Linked DNA regions of Homo sapiens. The protein of the gene in region 3 interacts with the protein of the main gene of each other region in a pairwise test. Each region holds a gene or a part of one and is shown on either strand. Other genes may lie near its edges.

Region 1 (4,570 bases), on a different chromosome or scaffold from region 3:
GCTCTTCAAATGGCCCACCTTCCATCCCAAATGACTTCAAAACCCAGCTTGCCAGGGGGCAAGGGGAAAGAAACCCAAAGGAGAGGCAGAAACTGGTGCCATGGAAAGGAGGGCATGGAGAATGTGCAGGGCAGCCAGCGCCAGCAGCAGCCAGCAGCAGCCAGCAGCACCCAGCAGGCAGATGGTCAGGTCGACTTAGACGTGACTGTGCTGGCCGCTCAGGGAGGCCACAGAGTCCAGGGGTCAGGGGCCAGATGGAAGGGGTCAAGTTGAGACAGCAGCAGGTGAAGGAGGTGAGGAGGACGCAGAGACGAGTGGGGAGCTGCATGCGGTTTGGGCCAGGAGTTCTTGGGTTCTTTGCCATGCAACATTTAGAATTCTCTTCATATGAGCTTTGATCACAGACATCTCTGAATGTCAGAAACTGATGTGAGTTGATAAGAATCAATAAGCTTGGGAAAATTAACATCAGTTCTTTCTCCTTCTTTCCTTTTTTTTTTTAATTTTTTTATTATTATTATACTTTAAGTTTTAGGGTACATGTACACAATGTGCAGGTTTGTTACATATGTATACATGTGCCATGTTGGTGTGCTGCACCCATTAACTCGTCATTTAACATTAGGTATATCTCCTAATGCTATCCCTCCCCCCTCCCCCCACCCCACAACAGGCCCCGGATTGTGATGTTCCCCTTCCTGTGTCCATGTGTTCTCATTGTTCAATTCCCACCTATGAGTGAGAACATGCAGTGTTTGGTTTTTTGTCCTTGCGACAGTTTGCTGAGAATGATGGTTTCTAGTTTCATCCATGTCCCTACAAAGGACATGAACTCATCATTTTTAATGGCTGCATAGTATTCCATGGTGTATATATGCCACATTTTCTTAATCCAGTCTATCGTTGTTGGACATTTGGGTTGGTTCCAAGTCTTTGCTATTGTGAATAGTGCCGCAATAAACATACGTGTGCATGTATCTTTATAGCAGCATGATTTATAATCCTTTGGGTATATACCCAGTAATGGGATGGCTGGGTCAAATGGTATTTCTAGTTCTAGATCCCTGAGGAATCGCCACACTGACTTCCCCAATGGTTGAACTAGTTTACAGTCCCACCAACAGTGTAAAAGTGTTCCTATTTCTCCACATCCTCTCCAGCACCTGTTGTTTCCTGATTTTTTAATGATCGCCATTCTAACTGGTGTGAGATGGTATCTCATTGTGGTTTTGATTTGCATATCTCTGATGGCCAGTGATGATAAGCATTTTTTCATGTGTTTTTTGGCTGCGTAAATGTCTTCTTTTGAGAAGTGTGTGTTCATATCCTTTGCCCACTTTTTGATGGGGTTGTTTTTTTTTTGTAAATTTGTTTGAGTTCATTGTAGATTCTGGATATTAGCCCTTTGTCAGATGAGAAGGTTGCGAAAATTTTCTCTAATTTTGTAGGTTGCCTGTTCACCCTGATGGTAGTTTCTTTTGCTGTGCAGAAGCTCTTTAGTTTAATTAGATCCCATTTGTCAATTTTGGCTTTTGTTGCCATTGCTTTTGGTGTTTTAGACATGAAGTCCTTGCCCATGTCTATGTCCTGAATGGTATTGCCTAGGTTTTCTTCTAGGGTTTTTATGGTTTTAGGTCTAACATGTAGTCTTTAATCCATTTTGAATTGATTTTTGTATAAGGTGTAAGGAAGGGATCCAATTTCAGCTTTCTACATATGGCTAGCCAGTTTTCCCAGCACCATTTATTAAATAGGGAAACATTTCCCCATTGCTTGTTTTTGTCAGGTTTGTCAAAGATCAGATGGTTATCTTCTTCCCTTTCTTTCTTCTCTCTCTCTTTCTTTACAGCCAGGGTCTCACTATGTTGCCCAGGCTACTCTCAAACTCCTGGGCTCAAGTGATCCTCCTGCCTTGCCCTCCCAAAGCGCTGGGATTACAGATGTAAGCCATCATGCCCTGCAACACTGTTTCTTTAGGAAGCCCTCCCTGGACACCCCCCCACCCACTCCAGACCGGTAAGGGGCCCTTCCTTGCCTCACCCACTTACAGAATGAGCTAGTAAATGCACTCAGTTGTAACAAATCAACTTATTTAATTTGAACGTATCATAGCTACATATTCACTTGCATTACTTCTGCTAGTTTCAGACTGTGGGCTCAGGAGGGCAGGACCTTGTGCCTAGATTCACTGTGATTCACATAAGCTCTGCCTAAGAATTTGTGAAATGAACTAATGAAGTGGATAAATGATTTATGTATGAAGATCCTAGTTCCACCATTTACTGGCTTGGACAAGTACAAGAAAGCTTTAGCATAATGCCTGGCACATAGAAAGTGTTAAATAATTGGGACTTTAAGTAAAACGTAAAACTCATACAACTAATAAGTGAGTTCAGCAAGGTTGTAGTATACAAGATGAGCATATGAAAATCAACTATATTTCTATGTATGAGCAATGAAAACATGGACACTGCAATTAAAAATACAATGCCATTGACAATTGTTCAATAGAAGACTATCCTTAGTTGTAAATCTAACAAAACATGTATAGGACTTGGAAATGGAAAACGAAACAATGCAGATGAAAGAAATCAAAGGAAATCTAAATAAATGAGAAGACACACTGTGTCCATGGAATGGAAGACAGGACACAGTAAAGACATGAATTTTCCCCAAACCGATACGCATGTTTAATGCAAATCCTACCAAACTTGCAGCCAATGTTTTTGTATAGACAAGATTATCCTAAAATGTATACAGAAAGGCAAAGGAACTACAATAGCTAAAACATTTTCAGAAAAAGAATAAAGACAGAAATAACCAGTCTACCCAATTTCAAGGCTTTTTTTTGAAACGGAGTCTCACTCTGTCGCCCAGGCTGGAGTGCAGTTGTGTGATCTTGGCTCATTGCAACCTCTGCCTCCCAGATTCAAGCGATTCTCCTGCCTCGGCCTCCCAAGTAGCTGGGATCACAGGCGCACACCAGCATGCCCAGCTAATTTTTGTTTTAGTAGACATGGGATTTCACCATGTTGGCCAGGTTGGTGTCAAACTCCTGAGCTAAGGTGATCCTCCCATCTCGGCCTCCCAAAGTGCTGGGATTACAGGTGTGAGCCACCGCGTAGGCTTCAAGTCTTTTTATACAATTACAGTAATCAAGACAGTGCAGTATTGACAGAGGGACATAGATCAAATGAACAGAACACAGAATCCAAAAGTAGATCCATACGAATATGTCCATATGCCCAAGCAATCTTTGACAAAGGTACAAAAGCAATTTAGTGGCAGAGAGAGCTTTGCACCATTTGGCACTGGGTTAAGTGGACATCCATAAGCCAAAAAACAAACAAAACGTTGACCTAATCTCATATCTTAAACAAAAATTAACTCGAAATGGACTATGGATTTAAATATAATCTATAAAACTTTAAGATAAAAAACACAGGAGGAAAAAGTCTTTGGGATCTAGGACTAGGCAAAGAGTTCGAAGACTTGACACCAAAAGCATGACAAAAATTTCAAATGTTTGCTCTGCGAAAGACCCTGGGAAGAAGCCGCAAAGGTAAGTCACAGAATGAGCAAAAACAACTGCAAATCACACATCCAATAAAGGACTTATAGCTAGAATATGCAAAGAACTCTTAAAACACAACAGCAAGAAAGCAAATAATTCAATTAGAAAATGGGCAAAAGACACATTTCACTGAAGAAGATATAAGGATGGCCAACACACACATGAAAATATGTTTGAAATCATTAGGCATTAGGGAAATGCGAATTCAAACCACAATGAGCCATCACCACACAACAATCAGAATGGCTAAAATAAAAAATAGTGACAACACCAAATGCTGGTTAGGGAAAACTGGATCACTCATTGCTGACAGGAATGTAAAAAGATATGGCCACTCTGGAACACAGTTTGGCAGTTTCCTATAAAACTAAACATGCAACTACAGTATCAACCAACAGTTGTACTCCTGGACACTTATCCAAACAAATGAAAATTCATGTTTATAGAAAAACCTGTATACAAATGCATGCGGATGCTTTAATCAAAGTAGCCACAAACTGGAAACAACCCCCGTGTCCTTCGATAGGTAATTGGTTAACTAAACTGTGGTGCATCCACACCAGGGAAAACTATCTACCAATAAAAAGGAACAGACTGGCCAGGCATGGTGGCTCATGCCTGCAATCCCAGCACTTTGGGAGGCTGAGGCAGGCAGATCACCTGAGGTCAGGAGTTCGAGACCAGCCTGACCAACATGGCAAAACCCCATCTATACTAAAAATACAAAGTTAGCTGGGCGCGGTGGCGCATGCCTGTAATCCCAGCTACTCGGGAGGCTGAGGCAGAAGAATCCCTTGAACCCGGGTGGGGGGGCGAGGTTGCAGTGAGCCGAGATCACGCCATTGCACTCCAGCCTGGGCAACAAGAGCAAAACTCCGTCTCAAGAAAAAAAAAAAAGGAACAGACTGCTAATCCATGGAACAAACTGGATGGCCCTCAGAGGATTAGGAATAAGAAAAGTGAATCCCAAGAGGTTACATGCTGTAGGATTCCTTT
Region 2 (4,570 bases), on a different chromosome or scaffold from region 3:
GTCCTCCAAGGCACAATCTCACACACCCTGTGCTGGGCTCTCATCTGACCCCCGCCCTTGCCCCCTCCCCTGCACCCAGGACGCCCCACCACTGCCCGGCGCCACTGGCTCGATCTGTCCCTGTCCAAGGGCACAGTCAACCAAAGACAGGTGCACACAGGCGTAGGGGCTGCATGCAAGTGGGCCACGCACTCACCATCGGAACTTCCCCATGGATCAGGCGTGGGCCCCTCCCCAGCTGCAGGGGCTGGGGTCCCACCCCAAGGGTCAACTGAGGGTCCTGCAGGGGCAGCAGGCCTCCAGGGGTCCCCAGAGGCCGGCGTGGGGGCTGGACCTCCCCAGGGATCAGCAGCTGGAGGGACAGGGGGGCCGCCCCAGGGGTCCGAGGTGGGGGCAGCCGTGGGGACGGCAGCAGCCATGGGTGCTGGGCCCCCCCAGGGGTCTGTGGTCGGGGCAGGAGCTGGGGCCGTGAAGACGTCAGCAAGGTCCATGAGGGACGACTGTGGGGGAGAGAGAAGAGAAGGAGCATGAAGAAGTGGTGGGAAGCCTGGGACAGGGACCAAGCTGGGGCCCGTGGCGGGGGAGGCGGCCAGGCCCTGGGTGTCCAGACAGCAGCCATCCATAAGGGGTGAGAGGGAGGCAGGCCCCAAACACACCACCTGGCCTCCCTCCTCATCCGTCATGGGGTCGGCCCACCCCTGCCCACCTACCCCACCCGAGGGTACCACCAGGGAGCCCCAACACAGCCCCACTCCTGCCCCACATCCATTCTCCACACTGCAGCAGGGCAGCCCCTTAACTCCACCTGCTCCCAGGTCCTTGCCCGGCCCTGACTGAGGATGGAGGCCAAGCCCTCCCCTCGCTCGACCCGAAGCAGCTCGATCCTCCCTCTGCCCACCGTGCCTTCTCCAGCCAGACTGGCCAGCCCCTGCTCCATGCCTTCCCCTGGGAAGCCCCCCATGAACCCACTCAGGTCAACCTGAGCACCCCTCACGATGCCCCCTACGTTGCCCCGCCGTCACCCCGCAGTCATCGCGCTGCAGGCCTTCCCACGCCCATTGCCCCACTGTCACCCCGCAGTCATCGCACTGCAGGTCTTCCCATGCCGCACGCACACGCATGCATGGTCCTGTGTTCTGGAAGTGGGCACACGACGGGCCCAGCTAACCAGAGCCCGTCTCAGAACGTGCAGATGCCCCCAACATACTCATGCACACATCTCCAGTCAGCACCCGTGAGGCAAAGGCCCCGGCGGGGATGGGAAGGGGAGAAGAGCTGAGTCCAGGGCAGGGCAGGAGAAGAGATGGGTGAGATCTGGTGCTCCCCCAGCAGGGCAGCCCTTACTCGGGTCACTGGGCTGTGGTGGACACTGATAGAGACCCCCTGGCCGAGGCCAACCTAAAGAGGCTTTCCGTCTACCAAGAAAGTCCCACTGTGCCTGATCACTTATGGCCACAAGCTGTCTGCCGCCTCCCATGGAGAGGAGGCCTTGTCCCCACCCCTCAAACTTGGGCTGGCCTCAGGACCTGCTGAGACCAATAGCAGTGCACAGGCTGACGAGGCAACTCCAACCCAGCCCGACGAGCTTGTCCTGGGGGGCGGCAGCAGCAGCAGCTACTGTGCTATGAGGACACTCAGGACAGACTAGTAACCAGGGAGAGGCCAGGGGAGGAGGCTGGAGGGCAAGGCCAGTGCGGACACCCCGGGCCCAGAGGCATGAGTGACCTCAGCCATGACACGAAACAACCAGCCAGCGGGCCCGTCACAGGGAAGTACTGAAGCGTGACCTGGAAGCACAAGGTTGTGGGAGGGTTTGCTACTCAGCTGCAGAGCATGGGGACGCCACAGAAACAGTGTTCGCGAGGGCGGGACCATGCCTCCTCGCTCACCAACAGGCCCTGGGTGTGCAGCACACGGCCTGGCACCAAGGAGGTGCCCGACAAAGTGTGACAGATGGGGCGAGCCCTGCACCCTCCTCCCTGTGGCCATGCCAGGCTGTTGGCCTATTCTGGGCCTCCCCATTCAGCTGTGGCGGCCGGTGGTGGCCCTCACGGTGCTCAGCCCGAAGGGGGATGGCCAGCGCTGACCACAGGAGGTGGCCGCAGGGCAGCCTGGTCAGTCACCGGCCTCAGCCCAGCAGGGAGGGAGAGGCACAGAGAGGCCGACCAAGCCTGGAAACCCGGTGCCCAGCTCCAGGACCTTGTGTTTCAGTCTCTGCTCCAGGGACCTGGCCACGCAGGAATGAGCGATGGGACGGACGGACACCTGCAGGGGCCAGGGAGGGCAGAACAAGCCCCGCTCACCTCCTCCTTGCCCCCAGTCTCCCTCTTGCTCTCCTCGATTGCCATCTGCAGCCGCAGGTCATCCCCGCGACGGATCCGCTCCTCCTGTTGGGGCACGGGCACGACCAGGGAGACATGAGAACGTGAGCCACGGGCAGATGCCACCTCAGCCTGGAAGCCCCAGCAACCCCTCCCACCCCAACGAAAGCGGCTGAAGGATTCGATGGGATGCGGACAATGTATGAAATGGGGATGGGGCACCTGGGTCAAAGGTCAGGCGGGACAGGGGATAAGGGGAGTGGGGTGCTGTGCTGGCGCACCCGGGGAGGACGGGCACCCGCCTCGGTGGTATCTCCTGCGTTGGGGGGAGGAAGGGACCCTGGTCACCCGAGCAACCTTGGCACAGCTGTGCTGGCCACCACCCAGGCTCTGTCTGACTTGTGGTCCTACATCCTACGGCTGAAGGTACTGAGGTTTCAACACGCGTGAGCCTGTGGGCTTCGGGCCCAGCAGGATGGTGGGGGGTGACTTAGGAAGGGGCGACGGGGCTGGTCTGAGGGGAGCCCCTGGCAGGGGCAGGGACAGGGAGGCTGCTCTGACCTTATCATGCTCTTCTCGGCTCAAACTAAGGGCCAGCTGGAGCTGGGCGTCGTCCTCGGGGCCGCAGGACGGGGGCTGGGGGAGAGAGAGTGTGAGGGGCATGACGGGAGGGGCCAGAGGCAGAGTCAGAGGCAGAGCCAGGGTCAGATAGAGCCGAAGAAAGAGAGGGCTGGGGGTCCCTGAACCAGTGAGGGACAGGCAGAGAGTGACACGCAGAGGGACGGCGGGGTGAGGATGAGGCAGGACTGGGGAGGAGACGAGTGACAGCATGTGGAGCAGCGACAGTGAGGGCCAGGCCCACGCCTGGCTGGGAGGGAGCCTGAAGTGAGGCGTGGAGGCGGGTGGCGGACAGACAGCCCCAGCTGCACGCCCAGTACCTGGTCGGCCTCCTCCTTGCTCATGGCCAGGGCCAGCTGGAGCTGCAGCTCCTCCTCCCCGCTGCTCTGCGGCCACGCCTGCTCCGCCTCGGGAGGGGGGCCTGAGCCCACAGCTGCTGATGAGGCTGGAGGGCGGGTGAGAAACGCGTGAGACCCAGACCAGGGAACGAGAGACAGGAAACCCCATAGCCTAGACAGACGGGGGCTTCTGTGTCCAACCCCACCCCCCAAGTCCCCCACCCTACAACCTCTGCAGGCCAAGACTAGGACTGAGAGGCGGAGACCAGACGCCAGGTGCTCAGAGGAGGAAGGGTGGGGATGCAGGCAGCCCCACCCACGGGAGGGGCCAGGCATCAGGGAAGGACCAGAGCAAAAGTCAGTCTGATAAGCAGGTGGGGAACCCCAGCAACCTCTGAGCCCTGCCACCACCAGGACTCTCCGCGTGCCTGGGGTCTGTCCCTGGGCCCCTGGGGGATGGGAGGTCCTTCCTCCCAGGTTTCCCAGGCCTGTTTCCAGGGCTTGTTGAGAATGGTAGCTCTGGCAGGGAACAACTGGAATTCAGAGGGGAGAACAGCATCCATTGAGACAGCGGGATCCAAGGCCTAGTCGGGGTTAGGGAGTGGGCTAGCGAGGAGCCCTTGGTTCCAAGAGCAGGAGGGGAAGGGAGAGAGAGGACACAGGAAGGCAGGGCCGGACCCTCCAGGAGGCTGCTGAGATATCCCCGGCCTCCACTGCAGCATCCTCTCAGCAACCCCGCCTACCCTCAAACTCTGTCCTGACACTGTTCTCTCCACCCCCAAGGCCTGTGGACCCTTGCCCCCCTCCACAGTGCAGAGGACAGGCTCCAACCAGGCCCTAGGCCCGCCGAGCACAGGGCCATTGCCCCAGCCTCCAAAGCCCCAGGGCGGACCCTGCCTCTCCTGCCCCGCCCTCCCAACCACTGTGCACTGGTCAGCAAGTTCTGTCTGCTCCAGCTCCAAGACGCCGCCTTGCACCTGTGTCCTGTACTTGTGTCCCCACCCAACCCACTCCCCAGGCCCAGGCCTCTCCCTGACGAGCAGGCCCTGGCTCCCCTTGCCCGGAGCCGCAGCAGGCAGCTGTCTGGCGGCCCCACCTGCACCGGGTCCAGGGGCCCCCAGGCTGGCCCCCGTGTGGTGTGCCCAGCAGGGCTGGGTGCATGGGATGCTCCAGGGAGCATGTGGGTGGCAGAGCGGGGCCGAAGGGTGACCATCTGGGGTTATGAGTGAGGAAAGGACGAGAGAACCAGCAGGGATTGACGGACTTGGGTGGGTAAGCGGCCTTCTGAGGGGA
Region 3 (3,971 bases):
TGGATGATAATGCAGCCTTTCTTTTCCGAAACTTCAGACAGCAGAATTCCAGAAGGGCTAGTCACACCCATGGAAGGCAGCAAGTGTGGCAGAACAAAGATCTAAGCTGACTGCAGAGGCCACTGATGAAAGCTGTGAAATATCTTTCCTGGAAGGCAAGAATAAATTCATCTGGCTTACTACTGTGGTGTCTCCATACATTGTGACCTAGTCACTGCTAGCACACAGGAGCCACACTCACTCTTAAGAGAGATTTTTTTTCTCTGTGGAATTTTGTAGAATAAGCAAACAGAGTTTGGAAGCGTGTTTGTGAGTTACGATAAATGAGAAGAACCTTGAAATTATTTTTAGTTCAAGAAAAACATCCCATTAAGGCCTATTTCTCATAAGTCACATTTTGTTGGCTTCTGGAAAAGCAGAAGATTCCTAGGCTAACATAAGGAAGTCCTCTTCCTAAATATGTATTCTCATAGTCACTTGTTAAGAAAGGGATACCTTTTAAAAAATGCTGAATGCTGATAGATGTTAAATCAAAGGCAAATAATTTTGAAAACGATTTGGGACAGGTACAGTTGTCCTCTGCTTACAATCTTCTCTCTTATCTCAGCCAATAGCTACTTGCTAACTGGATAGTAAAATGACATGAGCATGTATGAGTTTACAGCCTGATGTAATTATGTAATCAATAGCTGATTTACTTCACTCATTATATTTTGGTTAAAGTTGCTCTTGTCGCATGTTTGCATTCTTCCTTGTCAACGATGTCTGGGCATCAGAGGAGGAGGCAGGAAATGTACTTCACTAAAGACCACTGGGAATAAAGAGTGGCCATCAGTCTAGATTGCAGAGGGAAACAATCTCCATGTCAGTATATATATATGAATTACGTGACAGCAGGTCACAGAGAGAACAATGGACCATGAAAGCAAAGATTTGATTTCCATCTGTTAACTTACTCATCTGGGCAAGTTCCTTTTTTTTTTAAACAGGGTCTCACTCTGTCACCCAGGGTGGAGTATGCAGTGGCATGATCCCAGCTCACTGCAGCCTCAACATCCTGGACTCGGGTGATCCTACCACTTCAGTCTCCCAAGTAGCTGGGACTATAGGCATATACCTGGCTAATTTTTGTATTTTTGGTACAGATAGCGTTTCACCATGTTGCCCAGGCTGGTCTTGAACTCCTGGGCTCAAGTGATCATGTACCTCAGCCTCCCAAATTACTGGAATAACAGGTGTGAGCCACTGCACCCAGCTCCTTTTCTGATTTCTGATTCCTACATATAAAATGGGTAAAATATGGATAACACTTATCAAACATAGCCCAAAAGTTGTTTAAACAATGAAATAAAAATGGCTATGAAGCACGTCACATACTGAAACATACTTAAAAAAAAAAAGGCAATATGAAAGAAAACAAGCCACAGACCTTAAATATAAACACCTCCTCAAACACCACAAGAGACAAAAATTTGTAAAGTTAAGGAGGGTAACTTATAAAAGTACAACTTCCCAGTTTATATGAAAATGGTTTAATAATACTGAAACTTAAAAGCTGATAAAATTTATTGGCTACGACTACATTTTTTCTCCAATCACAGCAAATATTATGAGACACTTATCAATGCAAAGCTTTTGATCCTTTATCATGTACTCTGAACCCTATGCACTACTAAATAGGCAATATGATACAATCAAAGGTTTCTTTGGCAGACATAATTATATGTACCAAAACATTAAACTGCGTATTTTCCCTTAAACTTACCTGACTAAAGGCATCTGATCAAAAGACAAAAAGTGAACAATTTTAATAAGTAGTTGCATTTATCAATAAGAGTCTACAAGGTAACAAAAAGTGTAAAGAGACATCTTTTTGAAAATTCATATAAAACAAACCTTCCATGTTATTAGATCAACAAATATAATCACCTGGGTATATTTTATTAGGGAAAAATGACAATATTGATAATAAAAAGAGAAAGGAAAAATGAAAATGCATCTCAGACCAGAATACCATAACAAAACTTTTGTGGAAGCTGCATTTTATTTGAAAATCCACCCATTTTGCTAACATACATTTTAATATTGTAAACAAAAATAGAATCTGCAGAGACAATGCAACAAGAATGCTTAAACTCATGTACAGAATTGCTTTCCTACAATGAACTGTCCTTCTTAAGGCCCCTCTCCACCCAAATGTTAAAGATGTATTTACACAAAGCACCGATCAACAGTGCAGTTTAATTCTTCGTTTACTAAACTCTTGGCTAGACATTAACTTTAAAGATACTATTTCCCCTTATTTAAAAGGTATATGATCATAACATGGCACGAGCCAAAGAAAATGTTCAAGGACTTTGCCCCCCTTCCCTCCCCCTTGTAACACCTTCTAGAGTTTTAGTGAAAAGAAGGAAAGTCTTGAAGTGAAAGCAATTCCTCACATTCATTTTGGAAAGGCCCTAATGTCAAATGGAAAATAATGACATGCCAAGCACAAAGCAGTAAAGATCCTTCCCAATGCACTAATGCTGAATTTAAAATGTAGTGCTTTTCCTAGTCAGTGAACTGTTCCCTGGCAAAATCCTAGGCACAGAATTGACTATAAGGATTAATGCATTTATAATGCTTCCCTAAATCCCACAGAGGCCGAGAATTCTTAAGAGATTCAGACCTATGGACTTGCCTTAAAATATTTAGTGCTCTGTATGTCAGCTGAGAAAAGCATTCTGAATCAGATTCATTCTTGTGGATAAAAATCAAACATACTGTGCACATCCATACTCATTTTCATAAGGAGGTCTGATACAATATTAATGTTATGTAAAATTGATAATCATAAATAAATACAAATACTTAAGGAATGTCTACTGCAAACTGAATATAATTTTTTTTAAAAAAAGAAAAGTTAATTTCAGTTATTGTTTCTGTATTTGTGAGGACTGGAGAAAAGAAAGATAATGCATAATTAGGAATTTTAATTTTGATCCCCCAAAAGAGTCCTGTTGAAATACAGTAAAGGACACAGTTCTTCTCTCCAGGCAGCTTTTCCAAATACAAATTTCACACTTTCCAAATAAGGGCTTTTCTTGATAGGTTACTGATTATGGGTATTAACAGGAGTTGAAAGAATTGAAGGGTTAGTCACCAAAAAGACAGATCTTAGTCTTAAATCATAGCAATTCTTGGCTTTATAAACTGTATTGATACGTTCTCCTATAAACTAGTCCCAATTTCCTTCATGGGCCTTCACTGAGTTACTTGTAGCATTCTAATGGAAGAAGAGAGTTTAAGAGATTTAAGAGACAGCAGTTTGGATTTTGCTGGAAGTAAGGATTTTGCTGCTTGAGCACTTGTCTTTTTGGAGTAATTCCATTTTCTTCCATCAAGTTACATAAACTGTATCTGGAAAAAAAAAGTGGGTATGTTAATTCATTGTATTGTAGGATGTCTTCTCATAAATAAAAATGCTTTGTGGTCTTTACCATTTAACTGGCCCAGAAGTGTTCACAACATGCTTATCACAAACCCTGTTTATAAAACAAAGTCAGTATTATCAACTTATGTGCCAGAAAGCTCAATATTTGACACATATAGGGACTTCCAAATAATGTTTTTTGTTGTTGTTTTTGAGACAGAGTCTTGCTCTGCTGTCTAGGCTGGATTGCAGTGGCATGATCAAAGCTCAATGGCTGGGCACCATAGCTCACACCTGTAATCCCAGCACTCTGGGAGGCTGAGGTGGGCAGATCACCTGAGGTGAGTTCGAGAGTTCGAGACTGGCCTGGCCAATATGGTGAAACCCCGTCTCTACTAAAAATACAAAAATTAGCCAGGCGTGGTGGCGGGCGCCTGTAATCCTAGCTACTCGGGAGGCTGAGGCAGGAGAATGGCTTGAACCCAGGAGGTGGAGGTTGCAGTGAGCTGAGATCGTGCCACTGCACTCCAGCCTGGGAGACAAGAGCGAAACTCCA
Region 4 (4,570 bases), on a different chromosome or scaffold from region 3:
TTGGGGGCAGGAGGGAGCAGGAGGTCTGAGTCCTAGTCCTAGCTGTATCCTCTCCAGCAAGCCACTGCTCTTGCCTGGGCTCCAGGTCTCCCCACTGCCCAGTGGGACAGGTTGCACTAGATGTGATGCTGTTGACAACCTCTCACACGGTATAGTGCTTTAAGGAGTTTCCACATCTGTAAAATGGGATAATAATAGTACCTGCCCTATAGTATAGTTGAGGCTTAACTGAACTAATATGTACACAGTTCAAAGGAGCGCACCTGAGATACAATAGAAGCTCCAGATGCTACATGTTATGGCTTGAAAACTGCTTTTCTTTTCTTTTTTTTTTTTTTTTTTAATTTGAGATGGAGTCTTGTTCTGCTGCCCAAGCTGGAGTGCAGTGGCTTGATCTCGGCTCACTGCAACCTCCGCCTGCTGGGTTCAAGCAATTCTTCTGCCTCAGCCTTCCAAGTAGCTGGGATTACAGGCACCTGCCACCATGCCTGGCTATTTTTTTGTATTTTTAGTAGAGACAGGGTTTCACTATGTTAGCCAGGCTGGTGTCGAACTCCTGTGATCCGCCCACTTCGGCCTCCCAAAGTGCTGAGATTACAGGATGAGCGGTAGAGGGAAGGCTAGATGATGGCTCAGAACCCAGAGGCTGAACCCACCCATCCCCCAGGCAAGAACTTGTCCCTACAGTCGCCACTTTGCCTTGGCCACGCTGTCCCTATGGCCCCTCCATGGAAGCTCTGTGGTCCTGGGCCTCTCTCTAGCCCACAGGACCAGTGAAGGAGCACCCAAGCCTTCCTCCCTCCTCTTTCGCCTTCTGGCTCAGCTCTCCATCCCTGGGGATCCCCTCCCCCATCTGGGAGGGCACAGTGGAAACAGCCTGGGCTGCGGAGCCAGACACACTGGACTCCAGCTCCTGCTCTGAGGCTCATCTGCATCGCTGCACCTCGTCTGTAAAACGGAAGTGACCACATCGCCCTCCTGACCTGTCGTGAGCCTTAGGACCAGCCCCGCTCTTGCTGGCTGTCAAGTTGGGGGTCCATACGTCCCAGCTTGCCCTGGACAGTTACTTTCCCCTGTTGTCCCGGGATCACTATTGCTAGGGCCCCCTTTTATGCCCCAAACTGCCCTGGTTAATTATATGGTTACCCTTCTCTTAGGAGACCCCTGGATTGGGCTACAGGGACTAGGCCCGTGGGAGGACCAGGCTCCTCTCAGCTCCAGCCAGGGTTTATGTCCCATTTTATTTCATTTTATTATTTTTCTGAAAAGCATACAAATTTGTTTAATGTAAGTTTCACATGACATGGAGCCCTCCTAAGGAAATGAAGACCCTCGGGTCCCATTTTACTCACCTAGAGACTGAGGGGAGAAATCTCTCCCAAAGTCATGTCAGATGCAAAGTTTGTCCAAATCCTGGTCTCCTGACTCCCACCTAGGCCTCCACTGTCCTTCCTCCCACACACTCACCACCCATTCAGATGTCCAGACAGGCTGGACAGAATCCTGGGGGCCCAGGACCCAACTGTTCTTCTCTTTTCTTTGAGAAGGGCTCCACCCCTAAGGCCAGCATTAGGACCCCCTCCTTATCACTCCCATTGGGCTGTGGTCCCCAAAGCCTGTCCAGTTCTGTCTCAGTACCCCCTCCCTAACTTGCCCCACACCACAGGCCTGGGAGGAGCAGTGCAGAGCCCAGAACTTAGAGTAAGCCAGAGAGGGCTTGGCCCATTGGGAGGGGTCCTCCCGGGGAGGGAAGGCAGTGGGCTGGCCTCTGTTTCAGGTCAAATGCACCAGCACAGAGGACAGTGGCCTCTGACTCTTAGAAACACCTCAAGTAGAAACTCAGAAATGGCCTATCTCAGCTCTGTCTCTCTGCCCAGGGTCAGAAAGGCTGGTCTGGCTTCCCCCCAGCCTGGGAGGCCCTGGTGTCCTTCCTAGGTGTGGGGCTGCCCTAATGTCCTCAGCTCTGCTCTGGGTGGGGGGTCCCCAGCCACTGCATGGGAGCATCTGTTTAATCATTGCATTCCCCCTCCTGCTGCCTGCACAGGAACAAGCCATCTAAGGAGCTGGTTGAACCAGCCTTCCCACTTGTGCTCAGGGAGACACCTGCCCCAGTGGGCCCCCAGCAGGCCTGGCCACCTCCCCTGCCCTACTCCTGCCCCAGTGCTCAGAGCCAGAGCTAAGGTGTCATTCTGTTTCTGAGCCATACCCTCCCCAGGAGTCCCTTCCCACCCACTCCCTTGAAGGCCTGATGGCTCACTGGGACCCCATTCCCTTGTTTTACAGATCAGGAAACTAAGGCCCAGAGGGGCAAAGGCACTCCCCGGGGACGCACAGCAATCTAGGGGCAGAGCCAAGACTAGCACTCAGGTTTGTGTTTCCTGGAGTTCAGAGGAGGAGGAAGAAAGGTAGAGATGAGAGAAAAAAAAAAAAAAACAGAAAGAAAGGAAGAGGAAGAGGATATAGCAAGGGGAGAAAGGAGGCTGGGAGCTGGAGAAGTTATAGAAGTCAACCTCTTGGTAAAGGAAAGCAAGGCCAGCTTACCCCAGGCCCTCCCTGGTGGTGGTGGGTGACATGTTTCCTGTTCCCCAGGCTCAGTGCAGAGGTCTGCCCCCTGGCCCCACCCAGAGTCAAACTCCCCACCAAGCCAGGTCTAACCTCAGGGCCCAAGGGCCAGGGAGCCAGCTCCACGCCCTGCAGACGAGTTACCAAGCAGCCCCAGGGAGGATCACACCTCTCTCCTGACATCTGCCCTCCCAGCTGTGCCCAGGACTCAGGCACCTGCTGGGGCAGCCACTGGCTCTCTCCTCAGGCAAGAAGAGAAGCCAGGCTTGGGAAGCAGGAGTTGGATAGGCCATGTGGACAGTGCCCTGGACCCCTGATTCTGCACCCCTGGCCCAGCCAGAGTGCCCCTGTGTGACCCAGGATGAGTCATTTCCCCGGCAGTTCATGGACAGCCCCAGCAGTAACAGGCAGAGGCCCATCCTGTCCCTCCCCCACAGAGGGGGTCATGAGAACTGAAAACATGGCTAGGCTTGGGAAGTGGCCAACATGGACGTGTCCTTGGGGAGGTGGCAGGAGGAAGGGACAGTCCCAGCCGGGCCACAGGCTGTGCAACCACTCTTCTGTGGACACTAGCTCCTTCATCTGCAAAATGGGGACAGGGATCTTCCTGCACACAGACAAGACGCTCATAAAGAGAATACACAGTGGTGAGAGTAGCTTCCAAAGCTGCAAAGGTGGGGAGGTTAACTTGCAAGGAGCACAAGACAGGCCCCCACTCTGAGCTCTTGTTATCTGGGTTGGGTCTGTGTCTCCCAAGGGCCTACCGGCTCCTCAAGGGCAAGGCCTGGGGCCTGGTCATCTATGTGTTCTCAGAACCCAGCATGACACCATGCATGATGGGTAAACGAGATGCAAACAGAGAAAATGAATGAACTGACAAGAAGGTAAATATCAAGCTCCATGAGGACAGAGACCGGGCCTGTGCACAACAATATCCCTGCACCTAGAAGCACATTTGCCACAGACACAGAGTTGATATTCAACACATTTGTTTGTTTGTTTGTTTGTTTGTTTGTTTTAGAGACAGGGTCTCACTCTGTCACCCAGGCTGGAGTGCAGTGGCACAATCGGGCTCACTGTAGTCTCAACCTCCTGGGCCCAAGTGATCCTCCTACTTCAACCTCCCAAAGTGCTGAGATTACAAGCGTAAGCCACCGTGCCCAGCCCAACACATTTGTTAAATGAATGATTGAGACAGAGAAATAAAGACAAGTTGCTCCATTCTATCCAGGCCATCCCCATCTCCCCAGGGCCCAGCAGAGAGCCAGACTCAGGACGAGTTTCCTGCCTGCACTGGGCCTTACCTTTTTGTAGATGGATGATGTCAGGGAAGTTGGAGAGCAGGCCCTGGTAGAGAGACAGTGTGTCCAGCATCTGGAAGAGGTCATTCTTGGGCTGCTCAGCAAACATCTCCCCGATGGCTTCATAGGTACGGCCCGTGTGAGAAATGGCACTGTTGAGGGCCTCAGAGCAAAAGGGGGGGTCCATCTGGAAGGAATGACTGATGGCCTGGAAGGCACTGCCCAGCTTCTGGAATTCCTTGCGGAAGCCCCCCACATGTTTACGCACCAGCTCTGATGCCACAGTGCTGAGCTGCAGGACGCTGTCGTCCATCTTCTTACTGAAGGCCTTGAAAGTGTCCACGCGATCTTCCACGTCCTGCAAGTCCTGGTGCTCGGTGGGGATCTGGAAGGTGAGCAGGAAGCTGGCACCCACCATCTCATCCTTCTCCGCCCGGCGTTTGCCCATCTTCCACTGCTTGTCATCCAGGCAGCTGAGGAAATGCTGGAAGCCTTCGTACTGGGAGAGCACAGGGTGGCTGGTCATGTGGTCCATCCAGAGGATGAGTCTCCGCTTCCGCTTTTCGATGAAGTCCTCCTCGAAGCGGCCAGTGGCCTGCTTCTCAGGCAGGTGGGGCACCGAGATGACAGTGAACTTGTGTAGCAGGCGGTTATAGAGCCAGTCAAAGTGTTTGTAGCGCCGGTAGACGGGTGAGGCAGCATGGGTG

The links. The genes of interacting proteins can lie anywhere in the genome.
Region 1: the proteins of PICALM (region 3) and TRAF3IP1 interact in a two-hybrid assay, tested with the Homo sapiens proteins (one large-scale study listed by IntAct).
Region 2: the proteins of PICALM (region 3) and EPN1 interact in a two-hybrid assay, tested with the Homo sapiens proteins (one large-scale study listed by IntAct).
Region 4: the proteins of PICALM (region 3) and SNX33 interact in a two-hybrid assay, tested with the Homo sapiens proteins (one large-scale study listed by IntAct).

The regions. Positions count from the first base shown.
Region 1 is NC_000002.12:238,392,476-238,397,045, reverse strand, and holds part of TRAF3IP1 (TRAF3-interacting protein 1), read right to left. Parts: intron 1-4,570.
Region 2 is NC_000019.10:55,687,684-55,692,253, reverse strand, and holds part of EPN1 (epsin-1), read right to left. Parts: intron 3,385-4,570; coding exon 3,260-3,384; intron 2,958-3,259; coding exon 2,883-2,957; intron 2,388-2,882; coding exon 2,304-2,387; intron 501-2,303; coding exon 197-500; intron 1-196. UniProt on the Homo sapiens protein: Binds to membranes enriched in phosphatidylinositol 4,5-bisphosphate (PtdIns(4,5)P2). Modifies membrane curvature and facilitates the formation of clathrin-coated invaginations. Regulates receptor-mediated endocytosis.
Region 3 is NC_000011.10:85,955,659-85,959,629, forward strand, and holds the end of PICALM (phosphatidylinositol-binding clathrin assembly protein), read right to left. Parts: intron 3,403-3,971; coding exon 3,388-3,402; 3' UTR 1,517-3,387; downstream 1-1,516. UniProt on the Homo sapiens protein: Cytoplasmic adapter protein that plays a critical role in clathrin-mediated endocytosis which is important in processes such as internalization of cell receptors, synaptic transmission or removal of apoptotic cells.
Region 4 is NC_000015.10:75,649,870-75,654,439, reverse strand, and holds part of SNX33 (sorting nexin-33), read right to left. Parts: coding exon 3,867-4,570; intron 1-3,866. UniProt on the Homo sapiens protein: Plays a role in the reorganization of the cytoskeleton, endocytosis and cellular vesicle trafficking via its interactions with membranes, WASL, DNM1 and DNM2. Acts both during interphase and at the end of mitotic cell divisions.